3 linked regions of the Homo sapiens genome follow. The protein of the gene in region 2 purifies or fractionates together with the protein of the main gene of each other region. This does not show direct contact. Each region holds a gene or a part of one and is shown on either strand. Other genes may lie near its edges.

The links. Proteins that work in one complex are often made in the same cells at the same time.
Region 1: the proteins of ZBTB7B (region 2) and SP3 purify together in Homo sapiens (affinity purification with western blotting, with the first as the bait; one study listed by BioGRID). This does not show direct contact.
Region 3: the proteins of ZBTB7B (region 2) and CEBPZ purify together in Homo sapiens (affinity purification with mass spectrometry, with the first as the bait; one study listed by BioGRID). This does not show direct contact.

Annotation. Positions count from the first base shown.
Region 1 is NC_000002.12:173,947,942-173,952,746, forward strand, and holds part of SP3 (transcription factor Sp3), read right to left. Parts: intron 1-4,805. UniProt on the Homo sapiens protein: Transcriptional factor that can act as an activator or repressor depending on isoform and/or post-translational modifications. Binds to GT and GC boxes promoter elements. Competes with SP1 for the GC-box promoters.
Region 2 is NC_000001.11:155,008,470-155,013,274, reverse strand, and holds part of ZBTB7B (zinc finger and BTB domain-containing protein 7B), read right to left. Parts: intron 4,682-4,805; exon of another isoform or gene 4,328-4,681; coding exon of another isoform or gene 4,289-4,327; intron 3,018-4,288; coding exon of another isoform or gene 2,878-3,017; intron 2,815-2,877; exon of another isoform or gene 2,527-2,814; coding exon of another isoform or gene 2,260-2,526; intron 1,699-2,259; exon of another isoform or gene 659-1,698; intron 1-658. UniProt on the Homo sapiens protein: Transcription regulator that acts as a key regulator of lineage commitment of immature T-cell precursors. Exerts distinct biological functions in the mammary epithelial cells and T cells in a tissue-specific manner.
Region 3 is NC_000002.12:37,214,165-37,218,969, forward strand, and holds part of CEBPZ (CCAAT/enhancer-binding protein zeta), read right to left. Parts: intron 2,874-4,805; coding exon 2,820-2,873; intron 2,255-2,819; coding exon 2,152-2,254; intron 2,045-2,151; coding exon 1,976-2,044; exon of another isoform or gene 1,157-1,975; intron 789-1,156; coding exon 722-788; intron 1-721. UniProt on the Homo sapiens protein: Stimulates transcription from the HSP70 promoter.

The DNA of each region.
Region 1 (4,805 bases), on a different chromosome or scaffold from region 2:
GTCGTAAGACTGTGCTGATGTCCTCCTATTTTCCTGCATCATCGTCTCATCTCCGTAAATCTTCATTTAAGTCATACCTCAGGATAACAAACAGCAACAACTTTTTGTAGCTCCCCTTTAACAAAAAAGAGCCCTACTCCAGGCTCTTGTTTTCAGCAATGAATCTAACTCTGGGTTTTTCTGCATGTAGGGTACTTTTATCTATATTAATAGCTAATTAAATAGGATGTAATTCTTGACCTAAATACTTAGCAAGTATAGGAAGTCCTTATACCCTTATCCAAGGTTTTGCTTTCCACAATGGTTTGTTACCCATAGTCAATCACAGTCTGAAAACATGAAATTAAAAATTCCAGAAATAAAGACTTCGCAAGTTTTAAATTACATGCCATTCTTTGCACTAAGAAATCTCATGCTGTCTCATTCCATCCCACCTGGGACATGAATCATTCCTTTGTCCAGCCTATCCACTATACATGCTACCCACTCATTACCATATAGTAAAAACCATAGTGTATATAGGGTTTGGTACTCCCTGAGGTTTCAGGATCCACTGGGGGTCTTTGAACTATCCCTCACTGATAAGGGGGGCGACTATTCTATTTTCATCCTCCTAAAACTAAAAATTAAGCAATATTGTAAAAAGTGTATATGCAGTATAATTATGACAATATTTTAAAATATATGACACTAAGTCTTATTCCTAAGAGATAAGAGAAAATTTCACTTTCTACATTAAATATTTCCATAATGTTTTTGTTTTCCATATCAAGCCATGTATTACTTTTGTAAGCAAATCAACTTTAAGTACAGAAAATAAATAATTATAAGTCTCAAAATTAATAAACCAAAAAAATCGTTGGAAAATCAGAATATGAATAGGTTTTCCCCAAGCATTAAAATAAAAATCTTAATTTCTAAAATTTAAAGACCATAGCATGCAATACATACATGATTCACAAATGAACAGGAACTCAGACATAACCAAGCTAAGTGGTATGATACCTAAATAAACCATCCTCAGGTTATTTTTGATAAGACAACTTTAAAGTCTACAGAAAGCAACAGTGTAAAAGTCTTACACAACAACCTTTTATGTTGTGTAAGAGGGGCAAAAGGAGATCTACCAATTACTTAAAATCAGCACAGATCATAGTCATCACATTTTGTCTATTCTTTTTGTAACTCTAAAAAGACCACATTTCCATCATACACTCTACTTTTCAAGCAATAGGGTTGGCCTTTTAGCAGTATTTGTGCATTTCTATAATCAACCAGTTCTGACAGTGATCCCTTAGGTAAAATCAGTAAGGATTTATCTTTCACCTTGTTAGAATCACAAATAAAAATGTTTCAGAAGACATTTCCTCCACTTACCATGTAGAAAATACTTTATTCAAGGCTAGTATTTTACCCTCAAAAAGGAAAAAAAAAAAATCTGAAATAAAAATAACCAAAAAAAGGGAAGAAAAATACAATACTGATATAAATTAAAGAGCACACTGCCAAGACACTATAGGAGAGTGAAAAGAACAAAGCCTAGTTGTGAAGCCTTGGGCCAGTTACTTTCCTATCCAACCGTGAGAATAGTAAATAGATTAATGTAAGAAAGAATTATATGAGATAATACACCTAAAAACACCTAAACAGTACCCGATAGAGTAGGAGCCCATAAGAGATCCATCCCTCTTTCGCCTGTCAATCTTTAAATACTTAAATATTAAGTTAAAAAAGCCTGCCTTTTATAAGGCTTCTATTTTCTCAAAAAAAGATAGCTACCAGTTAACCTGCAACTATCCAGTTTTTCATGAATAATGGGGAATTCTAAACATTAAGTTGTTTGCTTTTAAGAAGAAATGACTTCTATAAACTCTTCTTCCAACTTCAAACACCTGACTCCATTTTAAATGTGCCCAGTCTTGAAAGATTAACTGTATTTTAGATAAAACAAAATCTGACAGAGGACTAAAATTTGAGAGACTGAATTAAGTCTTGGCTTAAATTTGGGGGAAATTTTGACATTGGAAAGATACATAAATTCACACTTTGCCTCCTCTTACCCAGTTTCAAATATACAGCAACGATAAAGTAAAAATGAGACAACAATGAAGTTTCCTAAAACAGCATGCATTTCTCAGTGGGCCACAAATGGACAGAAATATGTAAGATTAGTAGGGTTTCAGCTTGGCGCCTGATGTTTCCAGGAAGATGGAGATTTGCCTTCTAAAGGATAAGGAGTAGTAAAAGTACCCCAAAAAAGAAGGGAACAAAGTCAGACTTACTGCTTAATACAGGCTCGAGTAGAGGTCATTTTTGTTAAAGGGGTCCTTTAAACTTAACAAAAACAAACAAAAAGGCAAGTTCCAGAGCCCTGGTTTAAAAAAAAAAAAAGTACTTTCTCCTTTATTTTGGGAAATTGTTACATTAATGTCATGCTTATCAAAAGTAAAGTGCAGGCTAGGCACAGTGGCCCATGCCTATAATTCCAACACTTTGGGAGGCCAAGGCAAAAGGACTGCTTGTGCCTAGCAGTTCAAGACCAACTTGGGCAACATAGCAAGATGCCATCTCTACAAAAAATTTAAAACTTAGCTGGGCATGGTGGCGCTAGCCTGTAGTTCTACACATTCAGGAGGCTCAGGCCAGGAGTTTGAGATCACAATGCGTTATAATCATGCCACTGCACTCCAGCCTAGAAAACAGAGACCCTGTCTCTTAAAAAAAAAAAAAAAAAGTAAAAAAGGCAAACCAAGGATGTCAAAGTTTTCAGCATTTTCATCTGGGCATACTACACGTAACACTGAAACAAAAATGTTTTGCTCTGATTTTCTAGTGAGAAAAAGCATCTTAACATATCTCCCTTCTTGCCAATTAGAAAGATAGTATACCAAGAGAAAGTTTATATCCTCAAAATGAATTTATTACTAAATATGCTATGTCTTATACAGCATTTTTATTCTCACTTGCTTTAACTTTTACTTTCTCAAATAATTTCCCCGTTCCTTTAAAATCAGGACAAAATTCAAATTTAATGGCTTTCTGGAGTATTTATTTTACCCTTCCTGGGCAACATTCAATAAACTAAAATTCCATTTTGTATTCAATATACACAGTGTTTCTATTCTGATAACATTTGAAAAGAAATTACTTTACTGAAGAACTTGGTGCTTTATACCAACTTCATTTCATGACCAACATAAATCCACAAAAATCAAAGTTTCTAGATTTATTTTCTAACACCTATAGAACGCTGTAACATTAATTTTGTACACACATTAAAAACTAGTTTCTAAAAACTATCTTTTATGTCTTCAGTAGTCTGTCACTTAACTCAAACCTTTTAGTCTCAGAACTCCTTTCCAAACTTACACATTACTGACGTTCACAAAAAACTTCTGTTCATGTAGTATATGTGTATACTGATACTTACCATATCATAAACAGAAATTTAAATTTAGTTCATTTAAAAATAAATCCATTACACGTTAACATAAATTAACATTTTATGAAAAACATTTTTCAAAACAACAAAAAAAGTTTAATGAGAAAACCATGTTTTACATTTTCACAAATCTCTGTAATGTCTAGAGTGAATAAAAGAAGACATTTAAAGTCTCAGATCTGCTCCTGCATTCAATCTCTTGCAATATGGTTCGGGCTGAACCATATGAAGAGTATCTACTCACGGATATCTACCTGGAAAGGGCAAGAATAACTTAATATCCTTTCAGCCAATTGTGGGTTTTCTTTGAATACTACACCAAACTTAACAGGTGGCAGTTTCTTCAAGTTCAGTCCAAATGTGGAATCTGACACTACCTGTAAACTTTCTATACTGTTATTGGTCTATCTCGCACTTTGAATGGATCTTTTACTCATGCATGATTTTATAATATAATGAGTTGGTCATCTGAAAACTGCCGGTTCACTGAACTATCATACAGATCTTCCAAGTGTTAGCACATTACATTAAAATACAGTATCAAAAAAGCTTTGTTAGTATCACTATCCATCTCATCAGAAAAATATTAAGAAGGTATCAAGCTCATAATAGATTTGAGTTTTCTAAAATTCTAATTTTCACTGGAAAGCACAAATTTTGTCATCTGCAGCAGCAAATGCTTTCCAGTTTTTTTCCTTCACATGACAGGCTCACTTCATTTTTTTTTTTTTTTTGAGGAAATATCTGTCACTTAAGTACATTAATCTCAAGACCACAGTTTATCATTCTTTCAAGTAAAAACAGTATTTGATGAAAATAGCATCTAGTTCAGCTTGCAACTCACAGAACTGCATAACTGAGGGAAAAAAGTGGTTTTTTAAAGACAATTCTTATTTTGATATGCAGCAAAAATGCTTTATTAAGGCATACTTCCCATTTCATCATAAATACTACTACAAAGATATGCAGTAGGAACTACAAACCAAAACCATAAAAAGATACCACTTCACACCCACTAGGATGGCTGTAATCAGAAAGATGGGCAATAATAAGGTTGGTGGCGCTAGAGAGAAATTGGGACTCTCAACACATTGCTGATGAGAATGTAAAACGGTATGGTCTCTTTGGAAAACCGGTTAAACCCAATTGCCATATAACCCAGCAATCCAGTCCCAGGTACATACCCAAAAGAAAACATTTCCACACAAAATACTACCTACACAAATGTTCACAGCAGCAATATTCATAATAGCCAAAAAGTGTAAACAACCTAAATGTCCACCAGTAGATAAATAAAATGTGGTATATCCATACAGTGGAACAGTATTCAGCCATATATAAAGAAATGAGGTAATGACACATA
Region 2 (4,805 bases):
CAGTTAGCTCCATGACCTTAAACAAGTGATTTAATCTCTGAGCCGCCTTCCTCATCTGTAACATAGGATAATTCCACCTGACTCCTAGGGTTGTGGTGAGGGTTAAATGAGACCAAATATGGCACAATGCCTGATATGCAGTAGGGATTCGATAAATGTTCTGGCCTTGGCCTAGCCTGGGGTCAGATTCCACTATACAGATGGCCTCTGTTAAGAAAACTACTTGGGGACAGGTCTGCCTCCCTCCCTCAAATCACCCTGAGGGAACCAAGCTACTACTAGCTACATGACTTTGGACAAGTCACTTCCTTTCCTGAGGAAGCCTGTTCCTCATATGTAATATTAAAGACTGGCCCAGATGATCCCTAAGGCAAGTCCCACTGACATTTTGTCAGTGTCCCCTCTGCCACTCCAGCAGCTGTTCAGACCTGGCCATTGATGGGGAAAGGTTTTTTTTTTTTTTGGGTGGGGGGGTGAATGGGGGAGTCAAGCCACAAATTTCCTCTTTAGGACACAAGAAGTGCATTCTCTGTGTCTGCCTCCCTGCCTGCCCTCTTCATTGCAAGGCCAGGGCTCCTGCACAGAAACCTTGGGTGAGCAGCACCCGCATGTCCTTCTTTGCTTGTAAGCCACCTCTAGGCACCCTTAGATAGCTCACCTGTTCCCACCGTAAGTCCGCAAACCACTTCTCTCCCTAGGAACCAAGCCATCTGGGAGCTCTCCCTGCTCCCTTTAATCCTCCTGCCTGTACTTTACAAATGGTACAAGTGGCAAATGGCCCCCAGACTTGGGAACAAACAAAAACCAGGTGGGCAGCAGCAGCAGCAGGAGGAGCAGCAGCAACAGTGGCTGCAGCTACTTAAGCAGCAGTAGGCACCCTCCTGGGCCCAAGTGGATCCTGTCCCTCCTAAGGGGGATGGGTGGGGCTGTCCTCGCTGTCCATTGGCTGGGAGCTGGGCACTGGCAGGCACGTGGCTCACCCCATCCCTCTCCCTCCTTCCCTGCCCACCCCACCCATTCCCGCTGCTAAACCCGCCTCCTTTCTCCCACCCCAGGGCCGGTCTCCGTGGCAACTTGGTGTGGTGGGGGCGCTGATTGGCTGACCTCACTGTCAGGTCACAGGCTCAGGCTCGTTCACCACGCAACTCACACAGGGATTGGGCAAGGGTGGGTGTTTAACTCCTTAGGCCCAAATCCAATGCCCATGGCCAAGAGGTAGCAATGAAAGAGGGGGAGAGGCAGAGGACATGTGTGGGAAGGAGAGGGTGTTCATAAGCTTCTCTAGCTTCTGGGAAACTCCCCTAACCCTTACCCAGGGCTCTAACACCCATGCCAATATAGGTGCCACCTGGAGCTATGGTGGTGCCAACCAGGCCAAGGGGCCCTCCTAGACCCATCATCTGGGAGGGATGGGTGGGGCAAAGGCCTCCCCCTTCTTTCTGCCAGGGCAGGGCACTGGTGCCAGGGTGCCCACCCTACCTTGGGCACCTTTCCCACCTCTGCATCCCAGAGGGCCCAGTCCCCTGACGCCCCATGAAGGCGGCCCATCCCCACCCAATCTGGCATGCCCCCTCTTGCTAAGACCTTGTGGGCATGGGTGTGTGTGGTGGTTGGGGGTGCAGCTGTGCCAGGGAACCGGGCAAGGTCTGTTTGGTCTGTTTGCCTGGTAGGGGGAAGAACTGGGGGCCCCACCCCATCACTCCCCTCTTTCCCGCCACCCCCCCAGGCTCCCCTCACTGTCAGGCCTGCTAGACCGGCCAAGCCGGTGGGCAGCTCTCTTGAAACTGGGCCCTGAGTCAAGCCTGCCCTGTCCTTGGTTGGGGGAAGACTTCAGGGTGAGAAAGTTGGGAGGGGGTAAAGGTGGGAGTGCCTATCACCTACCCTTCAGTGCTCAAGGGCACCTGGCAGGGTATGTCCAGCACCAAGAAACCAAAAGGTGGAGGCCACTGGCCTGGTCTTGGAAAGAAAAGGGAGATGGGAACTCTTTCCGGGTGCTGACCTCAGGCAGGGTCCAGTGCAGGGCTGGGGGCCACGAAGGCCAACACTGCTGGCTTGAGCCAGCCGAAGGGCAGGGATAGCAGGCCCTGAACAGGGCAGCTGAGTAAAGCTGACCCCCCTTTCCCCCACCCTGGGGATTAGGGGAGTGAGGCTTAGTGTGGGGGGCAGCAGGCGGAACCAGGATTAGCAGCAGAGAAAATAGATATGGGCCTGGGACACAGGCACGCAGAGCCCCCCCTCCCCAGGTTCCAAGGCCCCTACCTCTAGGCTCTGCCAGGGAGCCTGAGAGGGGCCTGGCCAGGCTTCTCCAGGAGCAGCAGCTTGGGGTGAGGGAGGATGAGGACCAGGCTGTAACATCTTCCTGCCAGGGATGATGGAGAGACCTGAGGCTCTTCCCAACGCTCCTGGTGCCTTGGCTGGCCACCCCTCCCCCTTACTTCTGTCTCCTTTCTCCCTCCACCCCCCCACCCCAACTCCAGCCTCAGGTTCTCTTCCTGTTTTTTTGGAGCTAAGTTTGCACGAAGCCATGGCTTTGGCCTGCGTCTGGACCAGGGGGGTGGGGAAATTGGACAGCCAGTCCAAAGTCCTAAGGGACCCAGGAATCCTTGTTCTCCAGCTTCCCCCACCGCTTCCCAGGGCCTCTGGGGCCCAGGAGCTGCAGCCATCTGGATTGCCCAGTTGGGGAGGGAAGGTAAAGGGGCTGAGCCTCTTCTCACATGAGGACTAGAAGGGCTTCAAAGAAGAGGTTCTCTGCCCAGGGATGCTCTGACATTTATGGAGCCCTTCTCTCCCCACCCCAGCCCCTCCAAGCTTGTGCATGCCTTCCCCATCCCCCATATGACGCTTCCCCCTCCTAACCTCACCACCCCCAGCACTCACACTTCCTGGGGGCCGAGGCGGGGAAGAGAGACCGCAAGCCACGAAGGGGGAAGGAGGCGAGGGGAGTTGGCTGCTTCCCGGTGCTGTGGGGGTTAAGTCTCTGCCCAGCTCCAAATCCCCCAGTCCTGGTTCTGGGGCTCCTGAAATGAGGGAGACCTTAATGCTTCCCTACATTTTCTTTCCATGACACCAGCCCTTGCCCATAGCCCCTTAGTCCCCATCAAGGGAAATATGAGGAAGATAAAAGATGGCGGAGGAAGGAATGGGGGCAACTCTCTCAGCCTTAGCGCCGCCACCTTTGGGTATTCCCTGCCATCATCCAGCCCTCACTCTTGCCCCTCTCTTGGCCTCCTGGTTCTGTCCCCTCATTGCCTCCTCCGACCCTTGTCTTCCCTCCACAAGTCCACCCTTTGCTTTCCTTCCTTCAGCCCTCCCTGAACTCCGCATCCTCTCCACCCCATCAGTGTCCCTAGGCCTCCTCCCAGGAACTGTCCCTGCCTCTCCTTTCTCTTCCCCTTGGTTCTCTCTTGCTCAAACTTCTCCACTTTCTCCATTGGCCCCCTGCTCCAACCATCCATTCCCTTCTTCCCAGGCATATGAGGGGTGGAGAGCCGCAGAGGAATTAAATCAGGGACCAGGCCTGCCTTCCAATGCCTGGTCTTGCCAAAAGATGGTTGAGTTTAGGGCACCCACACCCCACTTTTGGATGAAGCAGGGGACCACAATTTGGGAGCCAGTTGGGGAGAATGAGTGGTGGAGGGGGGTTTGCAGCGAGAGCGGATGTGGGGTGGGGGTGGGGGGACAACCTGTGCCTCTCTGCCCGTCAGAGTTTCCAGCCCTGGAGCTGCTGGACTTTCCCCGGAGGGTGCCCACCCTGGACCAGGCAATTGTCCACTTGGACAGACTCTGGCCATCAGGATTCTCAGCAGGGTCTGCCTGGACAGTGCCAGCTCCCCTTAGGGCCTGAGGAGACCGCACAAGGTGCCAGGGTCTGCCCTGTGCCCACCCCCTCCCCCCCAGCCTAGTGTCTCCGGCTGGGTAACCGAGCTGGCTGGTAACCCCACACCCGCCAAGCCGCCAGCAGAAACCTGAGCCCCCCAGCCCCAGAGGACACCCCAGCCCGATCTCCGGAGCCCGGCTCTCTGCCAGCCTGTCCAGCCTCCTGGCCTGGCCCAGCAATCACTCAGTCCCTATAGGCCCCTCTTCTGCCTCTCCTGATCTGCTCGGGTCCCCTTAAACACTGAGGCCTCCCCACATTCCCGCTTCTCAAGCCCTCAGTTCCCTAAACTCTCTTGTGAAGTCTGGGCACCCTCTTCCTGACCTGTTTTTCAGTCCTCTGACCCTTGGCTAATTCTAGGCCTCCAAGCCCCCCTGGGGCCTGATCTCCCAAGCCAGAGCAGGGCCTACTCACCTGAACGCTGAGGGGCCTGGCGGCAACTCCTCCTGGCCCCTGGGGGCAGCAGGTTGGGACAGGTGGGGGAGGGCCAGGCTTGGGGGGAGGTAGGGTGGCTGTTCCCCGCTCCAGCTCCCTCCTTCAAAGGGGCCGCCCACGACCTGGCCCAGCCCCTCCCCCCTACAGCCTTAACCCTCTGGGTGCTGTCCCCCCTCCCCCCAGCTTGGAGGGAGGGGTTACCGGAGGGCTGGCGGCGTGGGAGAGGGCCCAGAGTCTCTGCCTGTGGTGCCTGAAGCCCCAGCAGAACCCACCCACTCCTGTCCTTACTCAGTCCTAAAAGAGGAAAAAGGTGAGGGGTAGGAAAGGTAGGAGCTGGGACAGTCCAGGAGGACAGAGATGAGGAGGAGCAATGGGAGAGGCTACTGGAGGTGGGACCAGGAGAAGGAAGAAGGGAGGGGAGGGGACGGAGGCAGCTGTGGCTAGAAGAGGGAGGAGGGGAACCCTGGACAGTCAGTGCCAGGGGTGACAGGTGCCT
Region 3 (4,805 bases), on a different chromosome or scaffold from region 2:
ACATTTCAAAGATAATATTTTATCAGCCCTATTCTTATATTAGAATACAGCAAAACTTAGCCATTTACAGATGTAATCAAACCCTCAAAATTATTCATTCTAAATGATTTTAAAAAACAAGCCAAATCAAACCTAATTAACCAGTCAACCAGATGAGATAAGAGGTACTTTACTACCCTAAGGCATTAGGTTATGATACTAGTTGGTTTAGGACTTATTTCTATAACAGTGCACTGAATCCATTCTAAGGGCCATGGTCTGGATAAATTACCCATGAGTTATCACTATATTAAACTTAAAGTATTATATTAAAATCTATATTAAAGGTAGATTTTAAGCCTATAAAGAAAATTATTATAAAAGGAAATTAAAGGCTAAATTCCAAAAAGAAGCATAAAACAAAATTTATATGCTAAATTAACAAAACTCCCAAATTTACTTTAGTTTTACTAAGATATATTAAGATTAGCAAAATGACGGATTTGTAAATTTTCTTAACAAACACAGACATATCCTTTGATCTTTTCAAAATATGCTGATTAGATTTCATAAAATGAAGCATTTAAAACTAAGGCCACTTCTCCCACTAATGTTCCATGGTCTATTTACACACAGTAGTAGATTATTGAAGTAGATTATTTCATAAAATGAAGCATTTTATGAAATCTAAAAATTTAAATTTTAGCAGTTTCCCCAAATGAAACTATATTATGTATAGTACCTGTGGAAAAACACTTCATCCACTGGTATTTGGCTTTCTTCTTTTGCAAGGAACTCCTTACTGTTCACTACAAAAATAAATTTAAACATTTTAACTTCATATAGCAATCCCCTTTATGTTACTCAAGCTCTTAAGACAAAATACAGCATAATCTGTAATTCTAAAAATCTCAGAATTGTGTGGGAAGGTAGACAGAAGGGACTCTGGAGTGCAAGGGACAATCTCTGAAAAAGTCTGTGTGAAGACCCCCCCAACATTTGAAACTTCACTGGCTACAGCATAAAGTAGGCAGTACATAGCTGTCAGTGCCGTTACAGTGAAACAACAGGGTTCTCTTACTGTTCTTCATTTGCATCCAGGACCCAACTTTCAAGAGAAATAAAAAATTCAAAGAGTTATTTTAATAAATAATCACTTTAAACTTGTCATTTTCAGCTCAAAAAATGACAAGCTTGCCATTAATGCGTGCCATTCTGGGAATAAACAGGAAGTTAACAGAGTTTTCCTTTATACTGAGGAAAACTAAGAAATAAGGAACTACAAGAAATCAGTTTTACCTCTTCAGAATAAAAATTGCTGACTCATCCTGAGTAAAAGGAGATTTGGCTTTTAATTCTAACTTACTAACTGTGGGTAAGTCCTTTTACATCTCTGGACCTCTGTGAAGTAAGTCACTGGAAATTAAATGATCTATAAGGTCTAATTTAATCCTGGTCTCTGAACAAAAGGGAGATGAGATCTGGTATGCAAAGAAATGTCTGCTTTGAATACAACAACAGACTCAGATCCAGAAGATGGCTAGCAAATATAGAAGTAGGTTATTAAGTTTAAAATGATGCTCTGTGACAAAACCAGCTGTGGGTTTTTGTGCTGCTAAGCTGATATTAGAGAGCTTTAAGATGGTCTGAATTGTAAGCAATAATAATTATATACATAGGGGTTGTGGATGAAGCTACGGATGATAAAATGGTGACAACTGTCAAAGCTGGGTGATGGTAATGGGGAGGGGGTTCATCATACTATTTTGTTTATTTTGGATATGTTTCAAATTTGCTGTAATAAAGTTAAAAAAAAAAAAAAAAAGGCCCAGTCAGATACAGTAGATTTAAGAATACCTATTCTTGGGAAAAAAGATGGATAATGTCTTTGATGCTCAGGTTTTATTCTGATAAATTAGAACAAAGAATAATACAATTTATGCATCTTTGTCTTATATTGTCTTTTCAGTTTCAACTGTCTAAGGTTTATACTTACCAGGAAGATGACGAATATCCTTAATAAAATGTTTTCTTTTCGGCTGCATCACAACACTATCTGTGTTTTCTGAAATGTAAAATTATGACAGTATAATGCAAAACCTAGTTATAAGCTCATATTGTTTATTATGTATTAAAAATGAAAGCCAAATAATTCACTAAATAGAAGCATACCTTTGCCTTTATGGGGCTTTGGATTTCGGTATACAAATCGATCCAAAAATCTCATTAGAGTGAAATCCTGCAGTGGGTCCCCTGAATACTGAATATAGTTTCCCTGAAAAGTGGAGCGGGGATTTAAAAACTTAATTCAAATTATGTCTATGAATCCAAGTAAGAAAAAGGAAGAAAAAGATAATTTCTATTACACTGTATTGAAGATACAAATATGCAATAAATGACTCTTCAAATATCTCTCTCATGCACATTATACTTAAAAAATTAAACACACAGATACATATACATACATATTCTAGGATGTAATGTTGATTTGATGGATAGACTAATATTAATAATGCAGGCCATCTAACCATTAATCAGGAACCAAACCCTGAAGTGGCAAACACAGCAAATGGGAAAGTGAGGCAGTATTTCTCCAGGAGAGGAGCTAGAAGGTAATAAATAAATAACTGCGTGGCTTTCAATGTCTTATTGCTTCCACTCATCTCAGAGTGGGAAAAGTTATCTGCTACTCTGTATGAAACAAGTCACTGCTTCTTTATACGAGCAGTAAAATGTACAAGATTCTCTCTGTTAGAGAAAACACTGTATGACCAATTATTGATTATCTAAAATGATACTTTTTTTCTTATTTCTCATCTTTGGATTTATTTTAGACTCACCTGAAGGATGGTCTTTGCAAAAAGGGCCACGGAGGGATGAAAATGCACAGATAACTAAAAAGAAAAATGTGAATAATATCAATATTTCTAAGGTCGACTCTTAGTACATTTATAGCTTATTTAAGAAAATCGGGCTGGGTGTGGTGGCTCACACCTGTAATTCCAGCACTTTGGGAGGCTCAGGCAGGCAGATTGCTTGAGCCCAGAAGTTGAGACTGGCCTGGGCAATATGGCGAAACCCCATGTCTACAAAAAGTACAAAAATAGTCAGGGTGTGATGGTGCGCGCGTGCCTGTACTCCCAGCTACTCAGGAGGCTAAAGTGGGAGGACTGCCTGGGCCCAGGAGGTCGAGGCTGCAGTGAGCTGACATGGCACCACTGCACTCCAGCCTGGGTGACAGAGTGAGACCCTATTTCAACAACAACAAAAATGAAAATGCAAAAATTTGAAATTTAAGCCAATACATTAAAAAAGTGATTCTCAAAACATATTGGTCTCAGGACCATTTCCTACACTTAAAAACCAAAAATTCCATCAGTTTCTATTCAACAGGTTTATATCTACAGACACCTATGTTATAAAAATAAACAGAAAAATTGTAAATACTTATAGGTCCATTAAAAATAACAATAAAGCGGCCAGGCGCGGTGGCTCATGCCTGTAATCCCAGCACCTTGGGAGGCTGAGGTGGGCGGATCACGAGGTCAGGAGATCGAGACCATCCTGGCTAACATGGTGAAACCCCATCTCTACTAAAAATACAAAAAATTAGCCGGGCGTGGTGGCGGGTGCCTGTAGTCCCAGCTACTCGGGAGGCTGAGGCAGGAGAATGGTGTGAACCTGGGAGGCGGAACTTGGAGTGAGCCGAGATCGCGCCACTGCACTCTGGCCTAGGCAACAGAGCAAGACTCTGTCTCAAAAAAAAAAAACAAAAAACAAAAACAAAAACCATAAAGCTACTACATACTAGTAAGTAGCATATTTATGAAAAATAATTATGCAGCCAGGCGAGGTGGCTCATGCCTGTAATCCCAGCATTTTGGGAGGCCGAGGCGGGCGGATCACGAGGTCAGGAGATCGAGACCATCCTGGCTAACACGGTGAAACCCCGTCTCTACTAAAAATACAAAAAATTAGCCAGGCGTGGCGGTGTGCGCCTGTAGTCTCAGCTACTCGGGAGGCTGAGGCAGGAGGATGGTGTGAACCCGGGAGGCGGAGCTTGCAGTGAGCTGAGATCGCACCACCGCACTCCAGCCTGGGCGACAGAGCAAGACTCTGCCTCAAAAAAAAAAAGAAAAAAGAAAAAAAGAAAAATAATTATGCTTCAGGACGAAATATATAGCGAGTAGTATTACTTTACAGTTTTGCAAATCTCTTTAATGTCTGGCTTAACAGAAGAGAGTGGATTATTTCATCTGCTTCTGTATTCCACGTTGAAACATACAATCTGGCCTCATGTGTAGAAAATAGTCTTTCACATAGCTGTGAATTTTCTTCTTTAGTACTATACCAAAACCAAAGATTAGTTGTAATATGGAATCTGAAACCCATATTCAATTGGCTTTTGGTACTTGCTACTTAAAATTATTTGGTCTACTTTGAATCAATCATTTATTCACTCAAGAATTTGTAACATTCAGGTGGCACAGTGGCTCATGCCTGTAATCCCAGCACTTTGGGAGGCTGAGGTAGGTGGATCACCTGAAGTCAGGAGTTCGAGACCAGCCTGGACAACATGGCAAAACACTGTCTGTGCTAAAAATAAAAAAATTAGCTGGGCATGGTGGCATGCTCCTGTAATCCCAGCTACTCAGGAGGTAGAGGTTGCAGTGAGCCGAGATCGCGCCACTGCATTCCAGTATGGGTGACAGAACCTTCTCGTTTCAAAAAAAAGAATTTGTAACATTGTGCATTGGTCATTGGAAAAATACCATATGCAGTCCTTCCAAACACTGGCACATTTCGTTATACTTTACCACAACAAT